Homo sapiens: one gene and its partners. The protein of the gene in region 1 interacts with the protein of each later gene in a pairwise test. Each region holds a gene or a part of one and is shown on either strand. Other genes may lie near its edges. The genes, in order: TNFRSF10C, ASZ1, SYAP1 and ARL13B.

What was found.
Region 2: the proteins of TNFRSF10C (region 1) and ASZ1 interact in binary tests that used the Homo sapiens proteins (3 or more experiments, as listed by UniProt).
Region 3: the proteins of TNFRSF10C (region 1) and SYAP1 interact in binary tests that used the Homo sapiens proteins (3 or more experiments, as listed by UniProt).
Region 4: the proteins of TNFRSF10C (region 1) and ARL13B interact in binary tests that used the Homo sapiens proteins (3 or more experiments, as listed by UniProt).

Annotation. Positions count from the first base shown.
Region 1 is NC_000008.11:23,098,559-23,105,951, forward strand, and holds the start of TNFRSF10C (tumor necrosis factor receptor superfamily member 10C precursor), read left to right. Parts: upstream 1-4,362; 5' UTR 4,363-4,563; coding exon 4,564-4,623; exon of another isoform or gene 4,624-5,000; intron 5,001-7,393. UniProt on the Homo sapiens protein: Receptor for the cytotoxic ligand TRAIL. Lacks a cytoplasmic death domain and hence is not capable of inducing apoptosis. May protect cells against TRAIL mediated apoptosis by competing with TRAIL-R1 and R2 for binding to the ligand.
Region 2 is NC_000007.14:117,382,485-117,389,520, reverse strand, and holds part of ASZ1 (ankyrin repeat, SAM and basic leucine zipper domain-containing protein 1), read left to right. Parts: intron 1-3,711; coding exon 3,712-3,823; intron 3,824-4,660; coding exon 4,661-4,795; intron 4,796-6,410; coding exon 6,411-6,535; intron 6,536-7,036. UniProt on the Homo sapiens protein: Plays a central role during spermatogenesis by repressing transposable elements and preventing their mobilization, which is essential for the germline integrity.
Region 3 is NC_000023.11:16,714,828-16,722,635, forward strand, and holds the start of SYAP1 (synapse-associated protein 1), read left to right. Parts: upstream 1-4,784; 5' UTR 4,785-4,897; coding exon 4,898-5,072; intron 5,073-7,808.
Region 4 is NC_000003.12:94,053,149-94,056,208, forward strand, and holds the end of ARL13B (ADP-ribosylation factor-like protein 13B), read left to right. Parts: intron 1-38; coding exon 39-115; 3' UTR 116-2,530; downstream 2,531-3,060. UniProt on the Homo sapiens protein: Cilium-specific protein required to control the microtubule-based, ciliary axoneme structure. May act by maintaining the association between IFT subcomplexes A and B. Binds GTP but is not able to hydrolyze fit; the GTPase activity remains unclear.

The DNA of each region.
Region 1 (7,393 bases):
GACTCCTTTAAACAACCAGCTCTCTAGTGAACTAACAGAGTGAGAACTCACTCATTACTGTGGAAAGGGCAGTGAGCCATTCATGAGGGTTCTTCCCCCATGACGCTAACACCTTCACCAGGCCCATACCAACCTCAGGGATCACATTTCAATATGACATTTGGAGGGGACACACATGCAAACTGTATCAGGCTATGTAGCTGCATTTACTGTTAGCCCCAGTTTTGCAAGACTGGGGTCCCATCAGGTCCATAAGAAAATTGACAGAAAAGTCTAAACACGTAGTCTGTTCCTGGCTTAGGGGTCGTCGCTGCTTCCAGCGTTTATAGTTGTAGCCCTGGCCCTGTGGCCAAGGTACCAGGTGGTGGGTGGGGAGAAGGGGAGAGGTGAGGTAATACAGGGAAGACAGACAAAAATGACGGTCACTGGCCGGGCGCTGTGGCTCATGCCTATAATCTCAGCACTTATGGGATGCCAAGGCAGGTAGATTACCCGAGGTCAGGAGTTTGAGACCTGCCTGACCAACACAGTGAAACCCCGTCTCTGCTAAAAATATAAAAATTAGCTGGGCGTGGTGGCGGGAGGCTAAGGCAGGGGAATCACTTGAACCCAGGAGGTGGAGTTTGTAGTGAGCCAAGATCATGCCATTGCACTCCAGCCTGGGCAACAGAGCGAGACTGTGTCTCAAAAAAAAAAAAAAAACCACTACCACCACCACCACCACCACCAACAAAATGACAGTCATCACACTAGCATCCTCCCTACCTCCTCATCCCCAGATCCACTGGAAAAATGGAGGAAAGTCTGGTGGGGACACTCCTTTAGCCCACTCGTGTGGAGTAGGGGCACACACCAGTGAAGGTGTGGAAGCCAGCCCTTCATGCCTGTGTCTCCCCCCATTTTAGACAATCAATGTTTCAGTTGACTGTTCTGCTTCCCTGTCAAATTATTACTCTAAGGAGGGTATCTCTCTGCCCATTGCTAAACATTATGCACTGAACGGCATGTTTCTTGGTCCAAGGAAGTGCGACTTAGTGGTCCAAACTAGAATAATACCTTATTTCAGTTCTTTTATATTAATAGCACTCTGGGCATTTGCAGCCTCCACCAGGTAAGCAAAAGACAATCCACAGTCAGTTTCTGTTCCTGTCAAGACTCACCTGTACCCCCCAGGGCACTGCCCTCAGTCTCACTTTCCAAGTATGTTGAGGGCCTCCCCATCAGGGAATCTGCCTCATAGCTATAGGCAGTCTGTGTCTCTCCCGCTGCTAGACAGAACAGCTCTTATTGGCATTATGTGCCTGAGAGAGAGCAAGAGGAATGTGTTTCGATTCAGCCCATCTCTGCATCACTGTGGTTCCCCCATAACCACTCCTTTTATTTAATGGCCTCTGGTGACCACCTCAAGGGAGTACATGGTGGGTGGTATCTCTTGCTGATGTCAATCACTTTCCAAACCTGAGGCAGGTTCTACTGAGCAGTATGGATGTGTCCTACTTTAATGCGCTCCTCAAGTCCCCCTAGAGATTGCCATGGGGTCAGGCCTCATATGGACATCCCTTCAATAGGCCAGTTTTCCATTATTCTTGGAAACAATGGGGAATGTAGAGACGAATATCCAAATTTAATACACTTTATTTGAAAAGCAAGAATTGCAATGCTTGGCATATACAAAGACCAACTTGTCTTTGATATGTCCAAAGACCAAAAAGAGAAGTTTAGAGGCTTTTTTAAAAGGAGAAATTCTGGCCAGGTGCAGTGGCTCATGCCTGTAATCCTGGCACTTTGGGAGGCCAAGGCGGGCGGATCACGAGGTCACGAGATCGTGACCATCCTGGCTAACACGATGAAACCCCATCTGTACTAAAAACACAAAAAAATTAGCTGGGCGTGGTGGCAGGCACCTGTAGTCCCAGCTACTTGGGGGGCTGAGGCAGGAGAATGGCGTGAACCCAGGAGGCAGAGCTTGCAGTGAGCCGATATCGCACCACTGCACTCCAGTCTGGGTGACACAGCGAGACTCCATCTCAAAAAAAAAAAAAAAAAAAAGGAGAAATACTAATTATTTTTTTTTCTAGGAAGCTCATTGGCACTGTCAAATTTGAAGAAGAGGCGTGCTCTGACTGGTGAGTGACTGCAGTGGGTCAGGCTGGTCTTAGAGCAGTAGCAGGTTATGTCCATAGATATTAGATAGGACTATTAATAGTTTCAGGTTACAGCTGCCAGGCTTACAGAGAATTGCAGTTTGGGGGTAATACAGTGATTTTTCTTCCCCATGGCCTCTTGACTCTGTTTTAGTTGGGTGTGACAAGAATGACCCAATTTGTGCAATCAACTTTCACATTCTGCTTCCCAACTCTATGACCAAGACGTTGAGGACTGTTCATGAGCCAGAAAACAACTCAAGTACAGGGGCTTTTGCTGCTGTCAAATCTTCCATCACGCTAGGAAAACAGCATGCAATCCAACCCACCTAGCCAATTTGCCTTTGCCTTCTTCCATCAGAGGGGTGGCCTTCCAAATAGGATGTTGACCATTCACCTAGGAATGACTGTCTACAAACTAAGTAGCTCTTGGTTGGTCAGTAAAGAGCTGCGTATAGGGCAGTGTCCAAGTGACCACAGAATCCAGCAGCTCCTCACTCAGTTCCAGACTCAGTCTGTGGGGAACAGAGGCTCCCTGCTCATGAGTGTCTCCTCTTTGCCTTCCTCAGGCACCAGGATCCCGTATCAACCATTTCCATTTTGTAATAGAACTCTTCGGGGACTGCCCTCCCCGTTAGAGCTTTTCCAAGATCTCTGAAGACATCATGAGTTTTTCAGGTTTCAAGATTATTTTATGTCCTTCAGTCACAGGGGGAGCTTCAGCTAGTGTTCCATCGTAAGCTAGTAAGTGCCTCTCAAATGGAAACTTTATAGTCTAAAGGCCCAGTTCCCTGGAGGTGCTCACAGCCTTTTGCCATTAGCCCTAGGCAGTGCTCCACACAGGGCACAGAGAATGTGTGTTACCTGCAGTCTGGTTTCTAGTCTACACTGTGTAGTCCACCCTCCAGGGCCAAGGGGCCTGGAGTGCTCTAAAGACTTTCCTGCAGGCCCTCGTGGCTCTGTGTTAATGCTGTCAGTCTTCCTGAAGTCCTGTCCTCTCACCTCCTGCCTAGATCTGCCCCCAGCACACATTCCTGACTCCACACATTTCTCAGTGCCTGCGACCTGGCACACATTTCTGATCCGAACTCAGTGCCTGGGGCCTGGCAGGTGCCCAGGGCACTCCATTGCTCAAATCCAAGCCTGTGGAGAGGATGACATATCATTCCCAGGTTTCTGATGAGCAGAAAAAAAAATCTTTGTTTCTATAGTGCTATCCTCTTTTATCCACCATGTGAGAGGTCAGGAGCCGACTCACCCCAAGGGTCTAGGAGTTGTGCCATTGACCTTACTGCCTAGGGTCACAGGCTGGCACCCTTCAGTACCACACATTGGATCTCTCCACACAGCAGCAGTGTGCTTAACTCAATGGGGAGGTGAGTAGCCCAAGGTCAGATAGTTGGACCTGGATAGACACTTGACTGGGGGACAGGCTTTGGAAGCCACTCCCCTGGGCCTCCTCTGTCCATGGGGCCTCAATACTAGAGCCCACAAGGTCGGCCAGAGAGTGTCTGTGCCTCGACCATGCAAAGGGTGCCAGGTTGTGGCTAGGGATGCCCCCGGGGTTCCTCTCCCTCCTACCTACTCCTCAGCCTCTGCATGTGCCCGTCATGGCCCCTGTGTCCTTCATTCTGTCCACTCATGTGTTCACTGGGCCCCTCCTTGGTGCCAGGCACCCGCTACTGAGGGATACCAAGCCCCTGCCAGAGAAGCTTGGAGCTGGGTCACAGCAGCAAGGAGGCTGGAGACATCAGTGGCATCAGTGCACTGGTCAGTGAGGCCGCTGTGGGAGGAGGGAGTGGGAGCAGAAGCTAAGAGTGGACTGAAGTCCTTAGGCCAGGAGGTAGTTCAGGGTTTAAGAAGAGGAGAGACAGGCGTCCCGGGGAGGGAGCAGGCTCAGGATGGGCCTCCAGTGCCTCCTCTGGAGCTCACTACCCAGACTACAGCAGCGCAGTGGGCAGCGCCTCAGCTCCTTCCCCTTCTGCTGCCTACAGCCTGGACAGGACCCGGAATCAAACCGCAGGCCCTGGGTCACCGCTGCCGGAAAGAGCCAGTTCCTGTCCGTCCATGCACCCACCACCAAAACCCAGGCCTTCCTGGAGGTGCTAGGGGAGGCCATGCCCCTTTTCTGAGTGCTTGGAAGTGACTGCTGCAAGTGACAAGTGACCACGCCTTTTCCCCCGCGGGTATAAATTCAGAGGCGCTGCGCTCCGATTCTGGCAGTGCAGCTGTGGGAACCTCTCCACGCGCACGAACTCAGCCAACGATTTCTGATAGATTTTTGGGAGTTTGACCAGAGATGCAAGGGGTGAAGGAGCGCTTCCTACCGTTAGGGAACTCTGGGGACAGAGCGCCCCGGCCGCCTGATGGCCGAGGCAGGGTGCGACCCAGGACCCAGGACGGCGTCGGGAACCATACCATGGCCCGGATCCCCAAGACCCTAAAGTTCGTCGTCGTCATCGTCGCGGTCCTGCTGCCAGTGAGTCCCGGCCGCGGTCCCTGGCTGGGGAAGAGCGCACCTGGCGCCGGGAGGGGGCAGGGAGACGGGGACACGGCAGGGATGCCTGGCCCTGGTCACCTGCGGCCGGGCATGTCCGGGCAGGACGAACTCGCCGTCGGAGTCAGGGGAAGAACTGGGTCCCCGGGCTGGGCAGGAGGGACCCGGCCGCGAGGGAGCAGAGAGGCGGTCCCCCTGGCTGCCCCGAGCCCGCGAAGGGAGGGAAGTTCCAGAATCGAGAGAGGGAGGGAGTCAAGGTGGAACCCATAGAGTGAGCCTCCTGAAGACACAGAGCGGTTGCCTCTCTCATTAATTAATTAATTAGTTAATAAAATTAACCCCATGTTTACATTCTTAAACGTGTTCCTTGGAGATCGGTTTAACCAACAGCCAGTGAAAAAACTTTTCAGCGCTGTCTTTAGCAACTTTCACCTCCTCTGTCCTGAAAGTGGCAGGAAGCCGGAATGTGGCAGGAAGCGGTTAACCAAGGTGCTGCCTTGGTTAATGTCTTCCACTACCACCCGTGTGTCCCCTCTGTATCCCATAGGCAGGACCGGGGCTGGCCCCTTCCTTCAGCATAAACGGTGTAAAGTTGTTGTGAGTTGGCTTTGGAAACTGAGATTGGTAGTAGTGTGAGTGCAAGGACATATTATGTATAAAATATGCAGACTTCTAGGTCTCTTTCAGATTGATTGAGGTTTTTGCTAACAGCCCTTTTTAAGATTCTTTATGTAATACAAAAAAAAGAAAAAAGAAAAAGAAAAGGCCAAAGCAAGGTTACAGAAACCATGAGAGTTTGCATGTTGTCTTTCTACAAATTAATGCTAAATTCAGAAAAGCAGTAACATTTTCACCTCTCAAAAATTACACAACTGACTTTTAAAATAGTTTATAGTGGGTGGACTTACCTGAGGCAGCTAGAAGAATGGCTGTGTCAGGACAGTGGCCCTGAAGAGAGAATGCATGGATGACCAGTGTAGACAAGGCCAGCAACATCAGTTTCACGGTTTTGGGAATGTGAACTCTATGCGTCCCAAAGGAGGCTTTAATCCCTCCATCAGTCTTGCCTTATTAAATGCATTTAAATGTACAATCACTTTGTTAAATTTTGGAGCTAACACAAATCACATTAGATGTTTTATGGCAGTACATTCAGATTGATCTTCTTTTAAACAAGGGTATTGTATTTTACTGCATGGGTAAGCCACATTTTAATTCACTGTTGCCGCCTAGGGGCAGCTGGTTAGATCCCATCCTGACGGCCTTTGCTAATTCCAACAGCATTGTACTAAATACCCTTGTATGTATCGTGTGTCCACATATCCATGCACACCAGCTTATTGGGCAACTCCTTACAAGTTGAATTCTACTTCTCCTTCTGTGGGATAAATGACTTCAGAAGTTTCTTTAAATGTTCACGAATTTTCCTCCAAAAAACCACTGAACCCAGCTTACAGTCACACCTAGTCCACAAATGTGCCTGTGTCCCTACACCTTTGCTACACTTAGCTTTCATTCTTTACTAGTCTAAGATGTAAAACATAACACATCACATTGCTATGTATTTTTGTTTCCTCATGGTATTAGGAATTTTCAAGGATATAGGAGTTTTTTGGTACTGGGAGTAGACCAGGGTATCCAGATGAGACAGCAGGGAAGACTGAATTCTGAGCTGTGCACTTGGAAAACCCTGGTCAGTTGGGGCCAGTCCCTGCCACCCACCATGCCTGTGAATGGAGATAAGGTCTCCATCCTCAGCCTGTCAGGGTGACTTCAGATGAGCCTGGAGCTGAGTTCAGTTCCTGACCCCAGGTCCTGGCTCTGTCAATGCTGGGCTGGTCCAATCTGTGCGCCAGGTCCTTCCACACCATTCCTCTCTCTATCAAAGTAGGAATTGAGAAGTTCCAACGGCTCAGAATCTCGGACTCTCAGGCTGTCAAGGACTCCTGAGATTGAAGGTTGTGAATGGCTGGGCCCTGCCGTGCTCCCCCTCTGGCTCTGTGACTCTGGTGTGGCCCCAGCTCCTGCCTGTAAAGTGAAGAGGAGGTAAAAATCTTCAGCAGCCCTGTGTAAACCTCAGAGGGCTGTGTTACCAGGTGTGGGAGGACAAATCACATCCTCAGGGCTGGTGTCACTCACTCTGGACTGGATCCCCAGGCACCTGTCCTCCATCCAGCAGAGGCTGCCCCTGTTCCTACCTGCACCCTGGTACTTGCTCCCTGAGCTTGGGGCAGAAGCTTCTGAAGACTAGGGTGGAGCACCACGGGGAGGGGCCATGGAGGAACAGAGGAGCCAGACGTCAAGTGAGGACAGCGATGGCACTGCAGGGCCACAGCCTGGTTTACCTGCCATGCTTCCAGTTGTCCTTCTGGTAGGCGCCTGGCCCGGGTTGTAGTTTGAAGAGTGAGCAGGAAATGTCTCCATCCAGGTGGCTGCAGATGGCTACTCACCCAGGCTGTACTGAGAGGCCACAGTCCCAGTTCTGGTCCTCTGTCGTGTATCCAGGAGTGGCAGGGCAGTGAGGCTCTAGCTTCTAGGTCAGGGATGGGGACAGTGGGGACAGTGCCATGCCCCGAGCCTCTGCCGTTGGGCAGCTGGTATCCTGCTTCCAGCCAGAGAATGCACATCTTCATGTAGTGGATTTCCTAACAACCCGGGGAGATGAAGGTAGGTTGTTTTTCCTGTTTTACAAGTGGTAAAATGAGATTCAGGGCTAGAGTTCTCTGAGCAGCTGCTTCTCTGATCTCTGTCC
Region 2 (7,036 bases), on another chromosome or scaffold:
TACCTAAGCAAGCACATAATTAGATAAGCAAGCACTGTTCATTGAAGTGCCTGGTGGGAAAAGTAGAAACAAAGCATTTCAAAATATGTTTCAAAGCTGAAAACAAGAAAGGAAAAAAAGTTTTAAAATGCATTTTGAGGCTGGGATGCTCAGTTAAAAATAGACACTAGAGAATCCAAAGGGGAGGAGGCAAGGAGGGGTCAAGGGTTGAAAAACTACCTATTAGGTACTATATTCACTACTTGGGTGGTGGGATTAATAGAAGACCAAACCTCATCCTCAGCAACACACAATATACCCATTAACCAACCTTAACGTGTACCTCCTGAATCTTAAAAAAAAAAAAGACTTCTGGATCCAAATTGTTACTTAGACAACTGTAAGTCAGATATATTCAAATACATCACCATCACCCTGTATTTATATATGCATATATGCAAATACTAGGTGCATTTCTAATAAACAGCAATAGATTTCCTGGCTTTTATATTTTTACTTAAGTTGTATTGTTTTATTTTCATTTCATGTTGTTCATTGCTAGCATGAAGAAATACAATTGATTTTTTAAATATTTCTCTTGAATGCTGTAACCTTGCCAAATTCATTAGTTCTAGTACTTTTTTTGTGGAGTCCATCAGGTTTTCTATATACATCATGCTGTCTGTGAATAAAGACAATTTTGCTTTTTTTCCCATCTGGAGGCCTACCATTTTTCTTTTTCCTTGTCTTGTTCCGCTGGCTAGAACTTCCAATACAATGTTGGGTAGAAATGTGAGAGCATACATCCTTGTCTTGTTTCTGATGTTGGGGGAAAGTACTCTTTCACCATTAAATATGATGTTAACTGTAAATTTTCCATAGATGCTTTTGTCAGGTTGAGGAAGTTCTCATCTATTCCTATGTTGCTGAGTGTTTTTGTTAGAAATAAATGTTGGATTTTGTAAAATACTTGTTCTGCATTTGTTGAGGGTTTTTTTTCATTTTTAGTTTGTTAATATGGTACATTATATTGATTGATGTTTCAAATATCAAACCAGCCTTGCATTCCTAGGATAATTGCCTGTAGTCATGATGTATTAACCTTTTTATGTATTTTTGGATTCTGTTAAAATTTGTTTAAAACATTTTTATTTTCAGTGAAGATTATTGGTTTATAGTTTTCTTTCCTTATAATGGCACCCTCTGGTTTTGGTATAAGAGTAATTTTGCTTCATAGAATGAGTTGGGAAGCATCTTCCCCTCTTTAGTTTACTGGTTGAGTTTGTTTAGAATTGATGTTGTTTTCATTAACTGTTTTGTAGAATTCACCAGTGGAGCCATCTGGCCTGCTGTTTTCTTTGTGGAAAATTTAATTTAATTTATAATTACTAATTAAGTTTTTAAAAAATAAGTCTAGGGCTATTCAGGTTATTTCTTTTTGAGTGAGCTGTGGTAGCTTGTGTATTTTGAGAAATTTATCCATTTCATCTAAACTGTCTAATTTATTGGCATAAATTTGTTCATAATACTTCCTCATACTTCTAAAATCTGGATAATCTGTACTGATGTTACTTCTCTTGTTCTTGATACTGGTAACTTGTTTCTTCTCTCTGTTTTGCTTAATCAGTCTAGCTAGAGGTTTGAAAATTTTACTGATCTTCTCTTAATAAGGATCTGTATAAGAATAAGGAGTTAGCAATATGAAGGTCTGGGGACAGGCAAGAGCACTTGCACAGTTCCTGCAAAGGGGAGATCTTGGCATTTTCAAAGACAATAAACTGTAAGTGGCCAAGAATGGAAGCATGGAGGAGAGCAGTTATGAGACTATGGCAATATAAATCAGAGAAAGATGATGTTGTCTTGGACCACTGCAGTGGCTAATGAGGTGATGAAAAGTGATCAGAAGCAGATTATGAAGGCAGGGCTAATAGGAGCTGCCGGTGACTTGTACTTGGAATGACAGAGAAGAGTCATGAATTATGCCTAGTCTTAAGCCTGAGTAATGTGGTTAATGGTGGCTTTATGAAATAGGGAAGACTGAGAGGAGCAGATTTGGGTTATTATGCAGGTAAGTGCAGTGGAGATGAGACATCAACAGTTCGGATTTAGATGTAATGAAGAATTTGAATTCGAATGGTTAATTCAAATAATTTGTTGTTGCCACGTATGTGTGTATGTGGGGGTTTTGGGTGGCGTTGTTGTTGTTGTTGTTGTTGTTGTTGTTGTTGTTGTTGAGACAGGGTCTCACTCTGGTTGCCTAGGCTGGAGTGCAGTGGCACAATCTCGGCTCACTGAAGCCTTGATCTCCCAGGCTCAGGTGATTCTCCCACCTCTGAAGTAGCTGGGATTACAGTTGTGCAGACCACATCCAGCTAATTTTTTTTTTTTTTTTTTTTTAAGTAGAGGTAGAGGCAGGGCTTTCCTCTGTTGCCCAGGCTGGTCTCGAACTCCTGGATTCAAGCAATCCACCTGCCTTAGCCCCCCAAGTGGTAAGATTACAGGCCTGAGCCACCACACCTGGCTAGTTGTATATATTTTTTTATGTTTGCTTAAGTTATCCAGGAAATTCAATCTTTACCTCATAAAGATTGTCTATCTAATGAAGCCACTATGTAAGGGATATTCAAGGTAGAGGAGGCAATCTTTTACAACTGATTTAGCATATAATTTCACATAAAACATTCAAATTATAATATACCATGAAATATAAGAAACAGATATATATGAATTGTGCTAACAAGGACATAGGTGTGAAGTGTTCAGATTTCAGGGTATAACCTTATGCTAACAAACCTTACAGAGAAATAGTCTATTGGTAGGTTGTATATGTAATGTGAATAACCAATAAAAACTTTCTTGGTAAGATCAAAACATGGAACTCTGAAATTATTTATTTTTCTTTTCCAAAGTTCTTTGTGTATAAATCAGATCTTGAGGACGACTCAGGAAAATTGGGCTCAGAGTCTCAGACCTCCTTTAAAACAGACCATGATGTTATGTTCAGCCCAAGTAGAGCTGATAAAATCTGGTGTCCTTGGAATAGGCCCAGAAGGTGACTAACTTCCAGGAGTAGAAGGATTGAATCTCTAATTTTGGGAAATGATAAACTACAGAGAAACCACTATCCTCTCCCAGAAAGTACTCTTAAGAGAATATTAAGCTGGTTAATCTATTGGACTTATCTCTTTTCTAATTATATATAGTAAGTCTCCCAGTCAGAATAAAATTCTTTCAGTCTCAGACTAAAGTAGAATCATAATAGAATACATTAAGGAATGAAGTTTTTAAATTTACATTTTTGTTTCAGCAATCCTCTAAATAAAATGTAATAAGCATTTAGTATTAGCAAATCCTTTGAGGGCAGGGACCTTATTTGTGTCATTCATTACTATATTCCTAGCATAAGCATAGTGTGGGTACACTGATAATTTTCTAGATGAATATGTATATTAGTGAACTTCATAGTAGAAAGCGTGGCTTATTTCATGTATTTTTAATACATTTATTCACTAGAGGGTGCTGTGTAAGCATTCAGCACTTTAAAAGTGTCATCTCTTTCACTTGTACTTACTTGCAGGAAGGTTGGATTTTTAAATCACCTGATTTAGCAAAAGCTTTCATTTCTTTTCGTTTTCAAAGCAGTACTGGTGGTATTGTGTATGGTTAAATTAATGAAAATGAGAGATTAATGGCAGCATTAACACAAATGTTTCCTTTCTTCCTCCTCCTTAGGAGACTTATGACCCCAATCATGTATGCTGCTCGAGATGGTCACACCCAGGTTGTTGCTCTCCTTGTTGCTCATGGAGCAGAAGTTAATACCCAGGATGAGAATGGTTACACTGTGAGAAACATTTTTACAATGTTTCTTTTTGTTTCTGTTATTATCAGTAATCTACAAAAAAAGAATTTTAAGAAGTAATAATTACAAAAGGGCTGGAATATAATTGCTATCTGGTGAAAAAAAGCAACAGTTGAAATAGAAGGGTATGGTGACTCACACCTGTAATCCCTGCACTTTGGGAGGCCGAGGCAGGCGGATCATTTGAGGTTAGGAATTTGAGACCAGCCTGGCCAACATGGTGAAACCCTGTCTCTACTAAAAATACAAAAAATTAGCCAGGCATGGTGGCACGTGCCTTTAATCCCAGCTACTCAGGAGGCTGAGGCAGGAGAATCGCTTGAACCCAAGAGGCAGAGGTTGTAGTGAGCCAAGATCGCACCACTGCACTTCAGCCTGGGCAACAAGAGCGAAACTCCATCTCAAAAAAAAAGAAAAGAAAAGAAATAGAAATGAGGAATTAACTGACTCTCGTAGTCCTTACTCTTGATTAAAAAAAAAAATTGTAACACACAGCAAAATCTGGGCTCTAAAATATACATAAGAATTATTTTTTGTAGAAAACCCTTCAGTGATTGGCAAATAAATCATTTTATTCCTTAACATCAGTTAATTGTATAAAACACTGGTTTTAAAAAATCAATGAGCTTTGCAGTCAGCTTTGCAATTACAACTTTGGAAATATGTTTACATTATATTGTAAAATGAAGAGATTGCATCATTCCATTAATTAACTATGTTCTCTTTTTTATTGTGTCATAAATACTGTTGAAAACTTTTCCTGTCTGTCTCATATACACTCCTTCTCTTTAAACAATCTTCTTTTCCCCCTACTTACAGGCTTTAACGTGGGCAGCACGTCAGGGTCATAAAAATATAGTTTTGAAGTTGCTTGAACTTGGAGCTAATAAAATGCTACAAACCAAAGATGGAAAGATGCCAAGTGAGATTGCAAAAAGAAACAAACATCATGAGGTATCCTTCTGTACATATTAAACTTATTTTCTGTGGCATATCACATTATCATTTGTAGAACTTTTGTATTATTCTGTTAGAATTAAAAGTGTAATTATAGTGTATCTGGCAATTATTAAATGTTTAAATATGTATCTTTCCTCCAGCCAGGTAATGAGAACTTTATTTTGCTAGAGTATTCATCTTCTATGAAACAAGAAGCACTTATAGTAATTTAAAAGCTCTATAAAAGAGTAATAAAATCTTATTCTGGCCCCAGGAATAAAATTGTAATATACTATTTAAACATTTTAAACTGGTCCAGAATTTTAAAAGTAATTTAGTGAAAGCTAGTAAAATGCCAGTTTGAACATGTAACTCAAACATTCTTTTGTAAGTTTAATTAATGTATTAAACAATTTAAAAATTAAATTCCTTAAACAACATTTGCTCTTATATGTGTGACAGGGCTTACGATAAAGTGATAATATACCTGGATGTATAATCTGTCATTCAGATGTTAAACTCAATAATAAATACTTGCCATACATTAAATTACTTTATCAATATAAACTTTTGGTCTGAAGATTAAAGCTTTAGCCACAAGTCTGTAACTTCTAAGCAAGGATCAAGTATAGTACAATTATAAAACTAAGTTGTTTAGTTCAAGAGTTTGTAACACTGAGTTCCCGAATTTGAAAGCACGTAAAATTCCAAAGATTCCGTCATGTAATCATCAAACCAAGCCACTTTTACTGCATATAAAGTAACTTCCTCTAACCTTTTAAGCAATCTGATAAACATGGCTATCATTTTCCAAATATTATTCTAATATTTTCAGAATTTTTATAGGATAAACAGTAATCACTACAGCCCTGTAGAATTTCAAAAAGGAATTTACCATTTTTCTTCCAAACTTTGAAAATTCAAAAACTTAAAATTATTTTATTACATTGTTAAATGTAGAGTAGATGACACCAAACTTGACATAAGAAGTTTATGAACATCAAAGGTTATTTTGAGTCATAAATCATTTATTGAAATGAGATTTGATCTTGTATTTTGGCTGAGTATGTGATATAACCTTGACTTCCTGAGAGGTTAGATTTTAAAACTCAGGAATTTCACCATATCTTTTTGAGGTGTTCAGTTAGGATTTGTATACATTTAGTCATGCTCATTACTCTCTTGCCACTTAGCAATGTTTTTAAAGTACTATCTTAATATTTAATCTGAGTCATTTATCCAAATGGAATTTTTAGTTTCGCTATGTATCTTACCAAAAATATTAATTACTATCTTCCTTTAATTTTTACTATTTTGAATTAGATGTACTTTTTTCTTTTCTGATTATTGTAGGTTAAGGAAGCACTTAGATATCCCAATTACCCTGATTTGTTTATTATACATTGTATATGTGTATCAAAATATCGCATGTACCCCCCAAAATATATACAACTGTGATATATCATTTTTTTAAAAGTTGTTATCAGGGTAGTAAATTGTGAAACATCTGTCCCACTTACTTGCTAAAATTTCCTTTCTGGATATGAGATAATCGTATGTTCAGTTTCTTTTAAGTGTAAGTTACAGTATGCAATGTTAATTATATTTGAATGATGTTAACTTTTTTCAGATCTTCAACTTACTTTCTTTTACTTTAAATCCATTGGAAGGAAAACTTCAACAGCTAACTAAAGAAGACACTATTTGTAAAATATTGACAACAGATTCTGATAGAGAAAAAGATCACATTTTTAGGTAATATAGCATGTTTTAGTTCAACAGAATACCTATAAGTAAAATTTGTGTATATTTTATTGTAGTAAATGTGGTGACTTATTTAAAATATATGATATTTTAAATGTTTACAAGCATTTTTAAATGTCTGGGTTTTTAGTGTTCTCCAGAATTTTAGAAAATTTTTATTCATTTTTATGTACTAACACTAATGATAATAACTTTAAATGTAAACTTTAAGTAAGATATCAACAATAAAATCTATTTTTAAAAGGTTCTGAAATTATATTAGTGTTCAAACAGTATAACACCTTGTTTTCTAATTATTTTTAGTACAGTTCTAATTTTATAAGCTAAAATTAAACATATACTTTTCCCCCCAGAACACCACTGTTGAGTACATGGCCAAAAATAATTCTCTCCTTACCCCATTTAAAGTTACTTAAATTTTACTTATTGCAATTAAAGAGGTGTGGTTTTTTTTCATTTTTTGTTTTTTGTGGGTTTTTTTGCCTCAAACAC
Region 3 (7,808 bases), on another chromosome or scaffold:
CGACCAGGCATGGTGGCTCACCCCTGTAATCCCAGCACTTTGGGAGGCCGAGGTGGGTGGATCACGAGATCAGGAGATCGAGACCATCCTGGTTAACACGGTGAAACCCCGTCTCTGCTAAAAATACAAAAAATTAGCCGGCCGCGGTGGCGGGTGCCTGTAGTCCCAGCTACTCAGGAGGCTGAAGCAGGAGAATCTCTTGAACCCGGGAGGTGGAGGTTGCAGTGAGCCCAGATCGCGCCATTGCACTCCAGCCTGGGCGACAAGAGCGAAACTCCATCTCAAAAAATAAAATAAAATAAACACAATGGAGTTTCTCCCCACCAAGGATGAAAGAACAGTGTTGTGGAGGAAGCAGTAAGGAACTTGGAACAATGATGTCAATTTCTGGGAAAATAAGCAGACGCTTCACTCAGCAGGGTAGCCTTGGGGGAGATCCAGGTCTCCATGGGTGTTGGGGGGTCCAGGGGAGGGACAAGGAACCACCTTGTCAAAAGGCTAGAGGCATAAACAAGTCTTCCAGAGGGCTCAGGGGAAAGAATGTTTGTGAAATGGGTTGGTATGGGTGCTAATACTTAATACCTGCCGCATATGTAAGGTTTCCTTCCACAGTTCCGTCTTTCATTATCTTTTTAGAACCAGGACAGTTGTTATGATCCCCTTTTTAGAATGAGGGACCTGAGGTTCAGAGATGTGAAATGTCTTGACCAAGGGTACGTTAGTTAATATGAGTGGCAAAGCCAGGACATCAATGCACAGCCAGACTCCACCACAGGATGTGAGGCCTGATCCAATTGTCCTATTCTATTCATCCATGAGGCTAATGGATAAAAGATAATCTGTATATACAAAGGGCTCATTATAATAACTATTGTATTATTAATCTCAAATGGGAAAAATAATGAGCTGGAAAACAAATTTGATAACAGGGTGTGGATTGACTGAATTGTGTGGGATAAGGATGTATCCTCATTCAACAAGTGTCAGTTCATGGCCCACCACCAGCATAACATCTTGCTGAATCCGCACAAGATGATTTTTTTTTTTTTTTTTTGAGGTGGGGATTCATTCTTGTCGCCCAGGCTGGAGTGCAATGGCATGATCCCAGCTCACTGCAACCTCCACCTCCCGGGTTCAAGTGATTCTCCTGCCTCAGCCTCCTGAGTAGCTGGGATTACAGGCGCCCACCACCACGCCCGACTAATTTTTGTATTTTTAGTAGAGACAGGGTTTTACCATGTTGGCCAGGCTGGTCTCGAACTCCTGACCTCAGGTGATCCACCTGCCTCGGCCTCTCAAAGTTCTGGGATTACAGGCATGAGCCACCGTGCCTGGCCAGATGATTTTTTTAAAATGAAAATGAAGCCCATCATTAAGTTGATTGCTTATGTTCTTGTTTTGTAATCTTTTTTTTTTTTCTTTTTTTCAGTCGGGGTCTCGCTCTATCACCCAGGCTGGAGTGCAGTGGCACGATCACAGCTCACTGCAGCCTCCAGCTCCCAGGCTCAAGCAATCCCCCTGCCTCAGCCTCCTGAGTAGCTGAGACGACAGGTGCAAGCCACTACACCCAGCTCATTTTTTATTTTTTGTATAGACAGGGTCTCGTTATGTTGCCCAGGCTGGTCTCAAACTTCTAGACTCAAGCAATCCTCCCACCTCGGCCTCACAAAGTGCTGGGATTACAGGCATGAGCCACTGTGCCCAGCCTAATCTCTTATTTTTAAGAATTCTACCTTTCAGAAGAGTTGTAAAACTGTCTATCCCTTGGTGACCACAGTGTTCACCACGATTTTGAGTGTACCTTAAGATAAAGCAGAGTAAGGCTGAAAGGGCTGGGCCCTATCTCTGCTGTGGGAAGGACCAGCACTATACTTCTTTTGCAAGTGAGGGAACTTGAGGGGCAAAAGGATGAGTAAAACGTCAAGTTTAGGCCGGGTGCGGTGGCTCACTCCTGTAATCCCAGCACTTTGGGAGGCCAAGGTGGGTGGATCACCTGAGATCAGGAGTTCGAGACCAGCCTGGCCAACATGGTGAAACCCCGTCTCTACTAAAAATACAAAATTAGCCAGGTGTGGTGGCAGGTGCCTGTAATTCCAGCTATTTGGGAGGCTGAGGCAGGAGAATTGCTTGAACCCAGGAGGCAGAGGATACAGTGAGTCGAGATTGTGCCACTGCACTTCAGCCTGGGCAAGACAGAGTGAGACTCCGTCTAAAAAAAAAAAAAAAGTCAAGTTTATTCACCTACTAGATGGTGGAATTAGAAGCCCATCCTAGGCTTCTCACTCAAATTCCAGGCTCTGTTCAATCATACTTGAAGCAAATATCCTATTCCCGAAAGTCTCAACCACTTTCAGGTTCTCATTGACTTAATAAAGCCTAGAAAGGCATTGATCCTAAGACATCTCCTGACTTCAAAGCTGAATCAATACTTGGACTCTAAAAACAGGCTGGAATGTCATCAATGCCACTGAACTGTACACTAAAAAAAATTTATTTTTACTTCAATTTAAAATATTAATAGTGTAATACACCAAAAATATATACCATTGAATTGTACACTTTAAACAGGTGAATTGTTTAAATCTCAGCTGTTTGGGGGAAAGAAAAAAACAGGTTGGGCTTGATAACCTAAAATCCTGGACCTGAATAAAATATAAATATAAGTCAGGCTGGAAAACTGGACAGCAGGGAAATCAGAGTTGTAATCAATTCCTCATGTATTCCCTCAGGTCACCGGAACTGTCCTCCTCTTCTCAAAATAGTTGGGGAGCAAGGAATCATGGATGTCCTTCCACAATTAATGACTGAAGACTGTGCTTGGGAAATGTGTCCATGAACTCCCTGCTCTGAAGGGGTAGTTATGCACATCACTAGTTTTTTGTTAGTTTTACATGTTATTGTGGGAAAAGTTAAAAATATAAAAAAGACAAATGTTTAACTACCCAGCTTCAACCCATGGCCAGGCTTGTTTCATCTATATCCCCCCCCATTCCCCCCACCCCCATCCTGTATTAATTTGAAGCAAATTCCAGACGTGGCATCATTTCTTTTTTTCTTTTTCTTTTTTTTTTTTTTGAGACGGAGTTTTGCTCTTGTCATCCAGGCTGGAGGGCAATGGCAGGATCTCAGCTCACTGCAACCTCCGCCTCCTGAGTTCAAGTGATTCTCCTGCCTCGGCCTCTCGAGTAGCTGGGATTACAGGCGCCCGCCAGCACACCCAGCTAATTTTTTGTATTTTTAGTACAAACGGGGTTTCACCATGTTGGTCAGGCTAGTCTCAAACTCCTAACCTCAGGTGATCCACCCATCTCGGTCTCCCAAAGCGCTGGGATTACAGGCGTGAGCCACTGCGCCTGGCCCAGATATGGTATCATTTCTTTGGTAAAATCTCAATATGTGCGGTGGATAAACAGATGGATAAACAAAACGTGGTGTATACATACAAGGGAATACTATTCACTCTTAAAAAGAAATTGACACAGCCTTGAGGACATTATACTAAGTGAAAGAAGCCAGTTACAGACAAATACTGAATGATTCCACTTATATTAAGGTATCTAGTCAGATCCATAGAGACAAGAAGTAGAATGGGGGGAGGAGGGGGATGACAAGGACAGGAATGGGGAGTTGTTTCATAGGTAGTTTCAGTTTTGCAAGATGAAGTTCTATTTTTCTTTTTTCTTTTTTTTTTTTTTTTGAGAATGGACTCTGCAACCTCTGCCTCCCGAGTTCACGCCATTCTCCTGCCTCAGCCTCCCTAGTAGCTGGGACTACAGGCGCCCGCCACCACGCCCGGCTAATTTTTTTCTATTTTCAGTAGAGACGGGGTTTCACCGTGTTAGCCAGGATGGTCTCGAACTCCTGACCTTGTGATCCTCCCGCCTCGGCCTTCCAAAGTGCTGGGATTACAGGCGTGAGCCACCGCACTCGGACTATTTTTCATTCTTTTAATTGCAAGATGAAGAGTTCTGAAGATTGATTGCTCAACAATGTAAATGTACTTAACAGTACTGAATTGTACACTTAGAAACGGTTAAGATGGTAAATCATATTAAGATGGTAAATTTTGTGTATTTTACCACAATTAAAATTTTGTAATTTCACAATTCCTTAATTTTATCAACTACCCAGTGTCCAAATTTCCAGTTCTTATAATAAGTATCATACTATTTTTTTCAATGTGTTTGCTGAATTAGGATCCTAATAAAATGCACAAGGGGCCATGTGTTACATCTCTTAAGTCTTTTTTAATCTATAGGTTCCCCACCACACTCCTCTCTTCCTTGCAATTTATTTGAAGAAACAAGGTTGTCTGTCCTGTGGCTTCTCATAGTCTAGATTCTGCTGACAGCATCCCATTGTGTTGTTTAACACCTTATTCTGTCCTCTTATTCCCTGTTGGGCTTGGCGGCTTTGGGTTAGTTTTGAATTGGGCTCAGGAGGAGGCTAAAGACATCCAATTCTGCGGGAACGCAGCCCTGCGGGACCTGAAAAGGCGAGACTAAGTCACCAGCCAAGCTGCCTAGAGGCAATCTTAAAATGGGACTGGCTAGGACTGTGACAAAGACACCGTCCACATGCCTACTAGGTCAGTCACCTACAAAGCTGGCGAATGAGGAAAAGAGGGAAGGCAGGGCTACGCTGGGAAAGCTCTTTGTCCCCTATCCACGCGCACAAAACAGTTGTCACAACTGACGTCACCAGGGGCGGAGCCTTTGGACGGAAGTGACGCTTGCGCGGCCGCGGCGGAGTCGTCATAGAGGCGGGGCTGCGGCGGCTGCGGTGTTCCTCCGACTTCCGGACATCTCCCTGGGAGTCGCGCAGAGTGGAGTCAAAGGCAACCAGTGCTCGCTGCGGTCTCTGGGGATCGGGACCGCGGCGGCGGCCCGCGAGCGGGATGTTCCGGGGCTTGAGCAGTTGGTTGGGCTTGCAGCAGCCGGTGGCAGGCGGTGGGCAGCCCAATGGAGATGCTCCACCCGAGCAGCCGTCCGAGACGGTGGCTGAGTCTGCGGAGGAGGAGCTGCAGCAAGCGGGAGACCAGGAGCTCCTCCACCAGGCCAAAGACTTCGGCAGTGAGTCTACCCTGGCTCTGGGACCGGGAAGGGGGGGGCGCATTCCTCCTCTGGGACGGCCCTGGGGCGCGGGCCCGACTGGCTGGGGGATGAGGGGGCCGAGGTGGGAGGCAGGGGAGGAAGATGTGTCTGTCGGTCAGTCCTCTCCGGGTCGGGAGAGATTGGTGAGGATCTGGACGAGGCCAGAGCTTCATCTAGCAGTCAGGTCCTGTCCCTGAAGTTCCTGGTGACAAGTCTACAAAGTTTGCAGACATTGGAATCAGGTATGCAGTCAAGCAGTGTGACCCGACGTCTTCAGGTTTGACAAGGAATCTTTTTTGTTCAACTCGAAAACCTTCATTTACACCCCCCAGATCGGGGATAGTTGGCGAGCTTGAATTGGTTGAAAAAATAATTTTTTGCCCCTAGGTCAGAACGTGTTGTCTGAAGTAAACTGACAGTTACTGAATGTCAATGTCTGCCCCGGTCAAATGCTTTTTAGGTACAGAGACCTTTTTCCTTAAGGAGGGAGAGAAAATGCCAACTGTCTGCTATACGCAAGTTGCAGTACTAGATGTTTTATGAAAGATATCCCATTTCATCTGTTAAACACCCCCAGTGAGTTGGGGGAACAAGCCCAGAGTTATTGGGCCAAAGTTATACTGATAGTGAGTGGTAGAAGTGGAATTTGAGCTTCGATCTTTCTCATTTTAAAGCCCGTGCTCTTTCCAAGTTTACAGTCTACAGGGGTTGGGGGACAGGTGATAATAGACGTGGAGTAAACACATGCTGTAGTAATTCTCATTTCTGGAGAGACCATGGTGGGCTTCAGTGATCACAGAAAGCATCTTTGAGGCCGGATATGGTGGCTCAGGCCTGTAATCCCAGCACTTTGAGAGGCTGAGGTGGGCGGATCATGAGGTCAGCAGTTCGAGACCAGCCTGGCCAACACGATGTAACCCCGTCTCTACTAAAAATACAAAAAATAGCCGGGCGTGGTGGCGGGCACCTGTAATCCCAGCTACTCAGGAGGCTGAGGCAGGAGAATCGCTTGAACTGGGGAGGTGGAAGTTGCAGTGAGCTGAGATCGCACCACTGCACTCCAGCCTGGGTGACAGAGCAAGACTCCATCTCAAAAAAACAAAACAAAACAAAACAAAAAAGCATCTTTGAGGAGGTGAGCCCTAAAGCAGCCCAGCACTACAAGTGAGAGAACTGCAACAAAGGTAGATACTAAGTTCAGCAACATTTGAAGAATCTACTAAAAGATGGGGGTGGGGGGATGGGGGTGGAGACAGGGATGTGGGAGGAGAGCAGCCTGAGAGTAGATAAACACATATTTGAGTAAGAAAGGGCCGAACAGTTTTTCTGGAGACAGGGTCTCACTCTGTCGCCCAGGCTGGAGTGCAGTGGCACGATGTTGGCTCACTGCAACCTCCACCTCCAGGGTTCAAGTGATCTTCCTACCTTATCCTCTCCAGTAGCTTGGATTACAGGCATGCCCTACCACGCCCAGCTAATTTTTGTATTTTTAGTAGAGATGGGGTTTCGCGATGTTGGGCAGGCTGGGCCCTAACGTTTAAAAGTTTACTGTGGGATGAAAGGACAGGGAAAACAGACATAATCTCAAACCATGACAGTGTATAATCTCAGCCCAAGGCCCCCAGATAGAATAGTCTTGCTCTGTCGCCCAGGCTGGAGTGCAATGGCACGATCTCGGCTCATTGCAACCTCCACCTCCTGGGTTCAAGCAATTCTCCTGCCTCAGCCTCCTGAGTAGCTGGGACTACAGGCACACGCTGCCACACCTGGCTAATTTTTTTTTTTTTTGTATTTTTAATGGAGACAGTGTTTCACCATGTTGGTCAGGCTGGTCTCAAACTCCTGATCTCAAGTGATTCACCCACCTTGGCCTCAAAGTGGTGGGATTACAGGCGTGAGCCACCGTGCCTGGCCCCTCTGAATATTTTCTAATAACTGCATTTTTCATATGGATGTGTACTTTGGAGCTAATGCTGCCATCTTTCTGCTCACCAGATTCTCTTTTGATATTTACGGAAGCTGAGGTTAGATGGAAGTACCCACAAACACACACACATTGTGAATTTAAAGCTTCAGAATAAATGAGAATTCTTTCTTTTCTGAAATTTATGTGATTTTAGAAAGTCGTAAAGGTTCTAGTTCATATACAAACTGTGAGAGACAAGAGAGATGATCAGATATTTTTTATTTCTACATATTGATCCTAAGAAGTATATTGTCTTTAAGAAGACCCATTTATGTTTTGAAAACTGGAATTAAACATCTGTGAGCCTGACTCCCAGAGTAGATTCATTTCTTAAGTCTTTTGAAATCTACATAAAATATCAGCCGGGTGCGGTGGCTCACGCCTATAATCCCAGCAGCTTTGGGAGGCCAAGGCAGGCAGATCACGAGGTCAGGAGATCGAGACCAGCCTGACCAACGTGGTGAAACCCTGTCCCTACTAAAAATACAAAAATTAGCTGGGCGTGGTGGTGCGCGCCTATAATCCCAGCTACTCAAGAGGCTGAGGCGGGAGAATCGCTTGAACCCGGGAGGCGGAGGTTGCAGTGAGCCGAGATCGCGCCACTGCACTCCAGTGTAGGTGACAAAGTGAGACTGCATCTCACAAAAAAAAAAAAAAAAATCTCCTGGGAGCCCCATTTGTTCTGCATATATTTGTTGAGTGCCTACCTTCAAGACTGGACACTAAATACTTCCTGGTTCCTGGTGACC
Region 4 (3,060 bases), on another chromosome or scaffold:
TAACTGTTTTGTGCATTTGGTTTTCTTTCTTTTCTTAGATTTCTATAGGAAGCCACTGCCTCCCCTGGCTGTGCCACAGCGACCTAACAGTGATGCTCATGATGTGATCTCATAAACAAGACGTATGGAGGAGTTCTCTTAATATCAGCAAGGTGAACTGGGACATTCTTCTTTCTCAGAAGAAGAAACATCTTGTAAATTGATGACTGGGGCAAGATAACCATAATAATTTTAGTGAGAAGATTAATACTCAAGGACCTGACTTGATAATTACTTATTTGTGTTTTTCATGGTTAAAAAAATAAAAGAAGCACAATGACCAGTACATGAAATCAGCATTTGGACCAAATTAGCAAGATTTACTGTTGACTCTGGTTTATACATCCCCACTCATGAGCATACTTCTGAAGGAAAACTTTACAAAAAGAGCCAATGGACTCAGCACTTTCTTTACTATTTGTTCAATAGCCTATATTTCTAGATATTAAATATTTTTTGTAAGATATATGCACATAGAAGGGGGACTTCTAGGAATTTATAACCAAAATTTTAAAACTATTTTTATATTTTTTTAAATCTTTAAAAATTTTAATTACTGTGATATTGATTATACACCTTTTTTATAGATGATTTGTTTAAATTATATCTGGAAAATAGAGTTGATTTACTTTCAGACATGAACTATACAAACAGGATATATTTATATGGCTTGAGGTATGTTTTGTAATAGCGTTGTTCTTTAAGTGTACATCGTAATTTGACCTAATTTAAAAATAATATATTTTCGAAGTAGTAGATTCTCAGATCTTTATTCTAACAATTACATGATTTGAAAACAGTACTCAATGAGACTGGAAATACCTTTTGTACCTAAATGTTTTTTAAATTAATCAAAATACATTCTGTGAGATACTATTAAAAGTCTCAGTAAAGTCCTATTTTAAAGGTTAGACACTTTCAGAGATCAAGGTGCTCCCTATACTCCCTTGTTCCATCAGAAGCTGCAGTGACTCTTTTAGGTGATTCTAATTCTTTCATGCCTTGAAATTAAACTATGAAATTAAAGGCAGAAAAACTGGAAAACCTACTGCAGGTCCAGAGACTTCTGTTTTACAACTGGGAAACAGCTTGTGTACTAAAGTAATGAGAATAAAAATGTTGGCCCAAAATTACTTTTATAAATAAATAATTCCAAAATAATTTCTTAATTTAAAATGATAGCACTTCTCTTGCACTTAAGAATGGCATCCATAAGATTCTGTATTTGGCATTTAGACTAACTTCTAGATGTATATTTTTAATAATAGATTCATAATGTTACATTTAATTGAAAACAAACCTTTATATCCAATGAAAATAGTATAAACAGAATGATTTTTATACCACCTTGTTAAGATTGGTGCTTTTGGTAACTTGTACTGACACAACAGACATGTGCTAGTATCTGATAACATTAAGTACATTTTATGTCGTTTAATATAATTATTTACTTTAAAAATTGTACTTCAGAACATCAGATTTTATTCACATTTTTTAACTCACTGAACTTTAATAATCAGGTCACCTGTACTCTAGTCAGCACTGTATATATTCTTGGAGTTTGTACATGGGACTTAGCAACCACACTGAGTGAGGTAAAAGCATTTGATTTCAGATCTAAAATTCGTAACAACCTAAATTTGAGAGGTGGCTGAAATGTGATGAAAAGCAATACGAAAAGACAATGTAAACTTTGAAAAGGATTTTAGAGGGAAAATTGCATAGCTTTTTGTAACATTTACTTAATTTTAAAACTAAACTCATACTTTTGCTATCTTTTTAATATTTATCTCGTTTGGGAGTATACGTGTTTTTAAAATTTGTGTTTTCTATCTGTTTACTATAGTGTAGCTACTGGCTTCATTTAATAAAAATAAATGATTTTGAAATTAAATATAATATAGAATTCACATTTTATATAGCTCTCTCAAAAATTAATTTTTATTCCTTAAGCATTTTAAAAACATTTTAAAAAATGTTTTGTAAATCCAGGTGTATTTTAACAATTAAATGCCTATTTTGTTATATGTTATACTTTTATTCTTAATTCTGAATTTTGACATTTTCACACAATAAAAATAATTTATATCAATATTCTGTTTCTCTTTTCAATTGGTAGATTTAAATGATTTCCTTTGGGTAATAAAATAGGTAAAGATTTTAAAATATGATTATTGAAAAACAGTTTAAATCAGTAGATTAAAATAATGCATTTTTTTGATACTTTACACACAAAACTTTTTTCTCTCTGCAAGTTTTTATGTATGTGGGAAAGAATTTGTGATTTTAAATGCAGCTACAAATAGCATTTCACCATATGATGTTAGAGGATTTGATGTCTGTCTTGCGTTAAAGCTGTTGGTCAACAGATATGTTTTTATGTATTTAAAAGAGGCTCTTGTGTGCCTTTATGTGTAAAATGCATATTACGTAGTATACATGATATTGTATGTAACTGACTTCAAATATAAAACTATGCATAGAAACAACACTAGAAAGAAATGTAGTTTGGCTTACTTTTGTAGTGAGGGAGGCAAATTTATAATATTGTATAAATTATTTAAGTACCATGTTTTCTGCAAGTTTAAAATTAAGTGCTTTTATAAATGCCAGATTAAGACTACAATTCCCTTAATATGTAAAACCTGTGAACATCGTGGAGCAGTTCACCTGCAGAATACAACTAAAGAAATCAAATGCTTCTAGGTAGCAAAAGCTATTCACAAGCTAAATTGTTTATACATATAAAGCTGTAGCTTATAAACTTTATCATCCTTGGCTTTACTTAGTAAATTTTTTTGCTAAGTGGAATATGCTTTGCAACTGAGATTCTGCTAATAATGGTTTATTAATTTATCAGGAAGTATATTCCAACTGATCCAAAGAACAAATTCAAATATTTTAAAATTTTCAATTAAGCATGGCATAGGTTATCAAAATAGCAATAATCCTTTATCTTTACAGAAACAGAATAATAGATACCTGTTTTTTGAGGGGGGAAAAAAAGAAAGCCAGAAATTA